Linked DNA regions of Homo sapiens: region 2 is linked to region 1. Evidence: fine-mapped expression QTL. Tissue or cell type: whole blood. Region 1 holds a variant in brackets; the other region holds the start of a gene. All regions are shown on one strand. Distances are from middle to middle.

Region 1 (2,760 bases):
GATCTCAGCTCACTATAACCTCTGCCTTCCGGATTCAAGCGATTCTCCTGCCTCAGCCTCCTGAGTACCTGGGATTACAGGGGCGCACCACCACGCCTGGCTAATTTTTGTATTTTTAGTAGAGACGGGGTTTCACCATGTTGGCCAGGATGGTCTTGATCTCCCAACCTCGTGATCCACCCGCTTCGGCCTCCCAAAGTGCTGGGATTACAGACGTGAGCCACCACGCCCAGCCGGTTGCCACACAATTTTACACACTTGTAAAACCTCATTAAACTCTTTGGTTAGAAAAGGTAAATTTTATTGTATATAAATCATATCTCGGTGAACTAGAGTTTTTCAATGCATGCAGAATATAAAATCTCTACATCACATAAAAAAATTTTAAGTGCCTAAATACTTCCTACATCAAGAAAATAATTCTGTGCCTGGTGTGATTCTGTCCCGCACAGCTGTTCTCTGGAGCGGTAGTTGTTTATCTCCGTCTGCCTTCTCTCTCACCGAAGTGTATGTCACCACCCCAAGGAAGATTCAATGGACATGGACACAAGCCCCCTGTGGCTCCAGAACTATCTTTTGGTTGTGAACTAAAGGCCGATGAAGATGATCGGTTTCGGGTGGATAATGATGAAAATGAGCACCAGTTATCTTTAAGCACGGTCAGGTTAGGGGCTGTGTAAAAGATGAATTGCACATTGTTGAAGCAGAGGCAATGAATTATGAAGGCAGTCCTATTGAAGTAACACTGGCAACTTTGAAAATGTCAGTACAGTCAACGGTTTCCCTTGGGGGCTTTGAAATAACATCAGCCGTGGGATTACAGTTGAAGTGTGGATCAAGGCCAATGCATATTAGTGGGCAGCACTTAGCAGCTGTGGAGGGAGAGGCAGAGTCAGAAGATGAAGAGCAGGGGGATGTGAAACTCTTAGGTATTTAATATATCTGGAAGGCAATCTTCCCCTGGAGGTAGCAGCAAGTTTCCACAGAAAAAAAAGTAAAACTTGCTGCTGATGAAGATGATGATGATGATAATTTTGATGATGAAGAAATTGAAGAAAAAGCTCCAGTGAAGAAATCTATATAAGATGCTCCAGCCAAAAATGCACCAAAATCAAACCAAAATGGAAAAACTCAAAACTATCAAGACCAAGATCAAAAGGTCATGAATACTTCAAAAAAAA[C/AC]AGGAAAAAACTCCTAAAAATCCAAAAAGGACCTAGTTCTATAGAAGACATTAAAGCTAAAATGCAAGCAAGTACAGAAAAAGCACATTGAACAGTCCTGGGCAATACTGCAAAATTAAGTCCAAAGATGGGGACAGAGGAAAGAGAAATATAGTCCATGCTGAGTATCATCAGCCATCCAGACTGAAGTCTTCTGTTTTAATCTGAATCCCCTTTTCTGATTTGCCAGCCATGCTCCTTCCAGGCTGGAAACGAACTCACTCTTCATGTCCTAAAGCACTTTCTTTTGACAGCTGTGATTCTGTGAACCTAGCCCCTTGCTTTCTGTTACTTGCACATTTGCCTCACCTCTCTGACCATGTTTTAATCACCTTTGGGTCTCCTTGGCTGCTCAATAAATATTTGAATGAATCAAAAAAGAAAAGAAAAAAGAAAAAAAGTCCCTATACTACAGAATATTTTGAAATGATATTTCTGTATTAAAATTGATGGAGTATTGCCACAGCAGTGCTTAGAAAAACACTCATTTTTCTAAATTAGGGAAGAAAGAAAAAAACACCATAAAAGCAAAGCCTTTATCTGCTAAGAGGCTAAAGTGAAAAGCCAAAAGAAAATAGTAAAATGAAAATAATAAAACTAACAACATAAATGAACAAAATGCTTATAAAGTTGAGTTGAGGCCGGGCACAATGACTCATGCCTATAATCCCAGCACTTTGGGAGGCCGAGGTGGGCAGATCACTTGAGGCCAGGAGCTCAAGACCAGCCTGCCCAACATGGTGAAACCCTGTCTCTACCAAAAATACAAAAATTAGCCAGGCGTGGTGGTGTGTGTCTGCAGTCCCAGCTACTCAGGAGGCTGAGGCAGGAGAATTGCTCGAACCTGGGAGCTGGAGGTTGCAGTGAGCAGAGATCACTTCACTGCACTCCAGCCTGGGCAACACAGCAAGAGACTCTGTCTCAAAAAAAAAAAAAAAAAAGTTGAGTTGGTAAATCAAATTAATAGTTGGCTTTTTAAAAATTAATAAAGTTGAGGACATGTTCCAATTAACAAAAAAAGGAGAATTGGCAAATTTATCAAAAATAATAAAATGCAGGGAGATAAATTAACAGAAAAGGGAGAATTGGCAAATTTATCAAAAATAATAAAATGCAGGGAGAGAAATAAGATATCAGCAATGGATAGAAACAACCATTTTAAAGTAGGGATGAGGGAGGAGGAGCCAAGATGGCCGAATAGGAACAGCTCCGGTCTACAGCTCCCAGCATGAGCGACGCAGAAGACGGGTGATTTCTGCATTTCCATCTGAGGTACCAGGTTCATCTCACTAGGGAGTGCCAGACAGTGGGCGCAGGCCAGTGGGTGCACGCACCGTGCGCGAGCCGAAGCAGGGCGAGGCATTGCCTCACCTGGGAAGCGCAAGGGGTCAGGGAGTTCCCTTTCCGAGTCAAAGAAAGGGGTGACGGACGCACCTGGAAAATCGGATCACTCCCACCCAAATATTGCGCTTTTCAGACCGGCGTAAAAAACGGCGCACCACGAGACTATATCCCACACCTGGCTCGGAGGGTCCTACGC
Region 2 (2,626 bases), 180 kb after region 1:
TAAGACTCAATGGCTTGTCACTAATACTCCACCAAAAATACTTCAACAGTAAGTTAATGCTATCTAATAGAAAAAAATAAAACACATCCCAGTCTTTTTCAATGCACCTTAGGCTACTCACACAGGGAGGCACACTGTTTATTTTGCTTTAGTCTGAACTCATTCAGATTTGTAACCTTTGACACACTTGCCACTTTAGACAACAGTGCATACAGTAACTGACCAGTGTTGCTAGCTTTTTTCTGCCAAAGCCCTATGCGAAGAAAGACACTGAGGCAGCAGTGTCTTCCTAACAGCTGGTTTCCAACTTTTCTCGAATATAATTTTATCCAAGCATCCACGCAGTCGATCACGTACCTTGCTTGGCCTTGTAGCCCAGTCGGCGCGCTTTATCAGGCCGGGTGGGGCGGGGAGCCCTGTGGAGAGCAGAGAGCTGGCGGTACTGCCAGCAGCGGACCCTCAGAAGAAAGCGCATGACATCAGACTGCTTCTTTCTCCATAGCTCCTGGATGTACTTGTATGCACCCATCTTGGCTTACCTGTGAAATCAAACTGTGTATTAAATATCATCCGCTTTAAGTACAATAAGACGACTGTATCCGTCCATCTTAGTTCCCCAACAAAAACAAGGAAACCGCCGGGAATGAAAATGGCTCTGCACCAACTGCCGGGGACAGCTAGCCCAACCCCCACCACTGCGCCCACGGAGCCGCGTTCAGTCACTTCCGCAACCCCAGCACAGAGCGGTGCTCGGCACGTTTTGGTGGGGCGAATTAACAGAACCAGAACTGAGCACCAAGGGGGCGGGTGGCTGCGGCAGGCGGCGTCCCCAAGGAGGACCTGAAAGGAGATGCCGCTGACATCACAGGACAAGGTACTGCTGCGGCCACCGAGGATTAACTCTCGAGGAAAATGCATCTACCCCACCCAACCAGCAGCCTCACTTTAGGCTGCCTTGTCCCGGGCGCCCCATTCGTCAGCCCCACGCCTCCTCCAGGATCCGGGCCCAGCTCGAATTCGCGCCGCCATCACATCTTCGCTCAACCCGCCCCGGGGGCCGCCTCTCCACCCCTTTGCTGTCCCGCATCCTGACCAAACTCTGGCCGCACAGGAGGGAGACCTATCTCCGAGGACGCAGGGTCCCCGGACCTGGATGGCTGAAGAGGAAGACGATCAAAGGCGGATGGAAGAGCAAAGATCCTCAACGCAGCCTACCTGATGGCTGCCGCCAGACGGAAAGGAAAGAGCTGTACTCCCACAATGCCTTTTGGGCTCCTCCCCCACCTCAGCCACCCTCTTTCCGGTGGAAAGCTGCGGCCTCCCAGAGCGTCATGGGACATGTAGTTCCGGCATCGCGCCTGGTGGCGGAGTTCTGCCGAGTGGGGCGCCGCGGCCGCTATTGTCCCGCCCCCTGCTCCGCAAGATTCGAGCCTGAGCGGCCTGGGCGTCTCGAGAGGTGAGAGAGTTGGCGGCGAGGTCTCGGCGGCTAAGCGAGCGTCGGCGACTGTCTCTCCGCGAGAGGAGGCAAGTTGGGGTCCAGGCTCCAAAGCCGGTGGCCGCGTACCGCGGTGGAGCCGCTGTCTTTGAGGTCTGAGGAGAGAACAGGTTTGTTTCACGCACCGCGGGCTCTCCCCCTGCGGAGTCTCTGCGTCTCCGCGTCTCCGCGCTGCGCTGTCCCTCTCTGGCCACCGCACGACGGGCGCAGAAATCTGGGCCCCAGAGCTGCGCTGAGAGATCCCCCGACGCTTCCCCAGCCTCCCAGGGAGGCCTTCGCGGAGTCGGGGCGTCGCGGGTCGGGGCGCTCGCTGTGTCCCTTCAGCTCCAGACTGCGTGAAGCTCCTCCAGCAGGCCCCAGCGCCCAGGGATTTTGTCCTAAAAAAGGGTCATGGAGTGGGTGGATTGCGGGCGGCCCGGCGCTTTTTCTGCATACGGATTTCGTCCCAAATTTGCTAACATGAGAACCACAGTTTTTCAGAAGAGCAGAATGTTTATTTGCCAAGACCTGTTTGGCAGGTGTGAATGTTTTAGAGAAGAAATGCCGAGAAAATGCTGGCATTTTGCGTTGCGGGTTTTTTTTTAAATTGAGAAATAGGTTACTGGCTTACTTTGTTTCTCCAGAATATTTTCACTTGGCTTTAATTTAAGTCATGTGGCTTTAATTTCCTTCCAGATTATGCGTTCAGATGTGGCAAAGGCTTAAGAGAATCATTATCTCTTAATCGTAGCGGTTTTGATTATCTTTTTTCCCACATCATATTTTTCTTTCTTTCTTTTTAAATCACAGCTTTACGTTTTTAAGAGTCTCTATCTGGTTCATTGATTGATTCAACAAATATTTATTAAGTGTCTAATATGTGCCAGGCATAGTTGCTGGGGATGCAGCAGGAAACAACGCAGAATTTTTGGCCTTCTTGGAAATGGGCAGTAAGCAGAAGTAAGCTGTGTTTTGGGTTTGGTGGTAAATGCTAAGGAAAAAAGATAAGGGGAGGGAAGTGATGAGGGAGTGTTAGCGGCTGAGGGTTGCAATTTGGAATGGAGTGTCCAGGTTAAGTCTTTGAGAGAAGGTAACATTTAAGAAAGGACTTCAAGGATAGGAGTCTGGGAGTAAGAGTAGGGGTCTGATTCA

Evidence for each region. PIP is the estimated chance that this variant, and not a neighbour inherited with it, causes the effect.
Region 2: it holds the start of NKIRAS1, and the variant in region 1 is fine-mapped to the expression of NKIRAS1 in whole blood (TOPMed, PIP above 0.99).

Annotation. Positions count from the first base shown.
Region 1 is chr3:24,095,126-24,097,885 of GRCh38, reverse strand. It overlaps the pseudogene NPM1P23. Among named protein-coding and RNA genes, the nearest start is that of LINC00691, 6.7 kb to the left of the region's middle. RefSeq lists an enhancer at 2,640-2,760. The variant C/AC (reference allele first, on the strand shown) is at 1,182.
Region 2 is chr3:23,915,763-23,918,388 of GRCh38, reverse strand. NKIRAS1 (NFKB inhibitor interacting Ras like 1) reads left to right here and starts at 1,399. Exons shown (of 5, transcript NM_020345.4): 1 at 1,399-1,605. RPL15 (ribosomal protein L15) reads right to left here and starts at 1,257. Exons shown (of 4, transcript NM_002948.5): 1 at 1,216-1,257; 2 at 358-539. The coding sequence starts at 529. RefSeq lists enhancers at 516-615, 545-1,744, 996-1,795.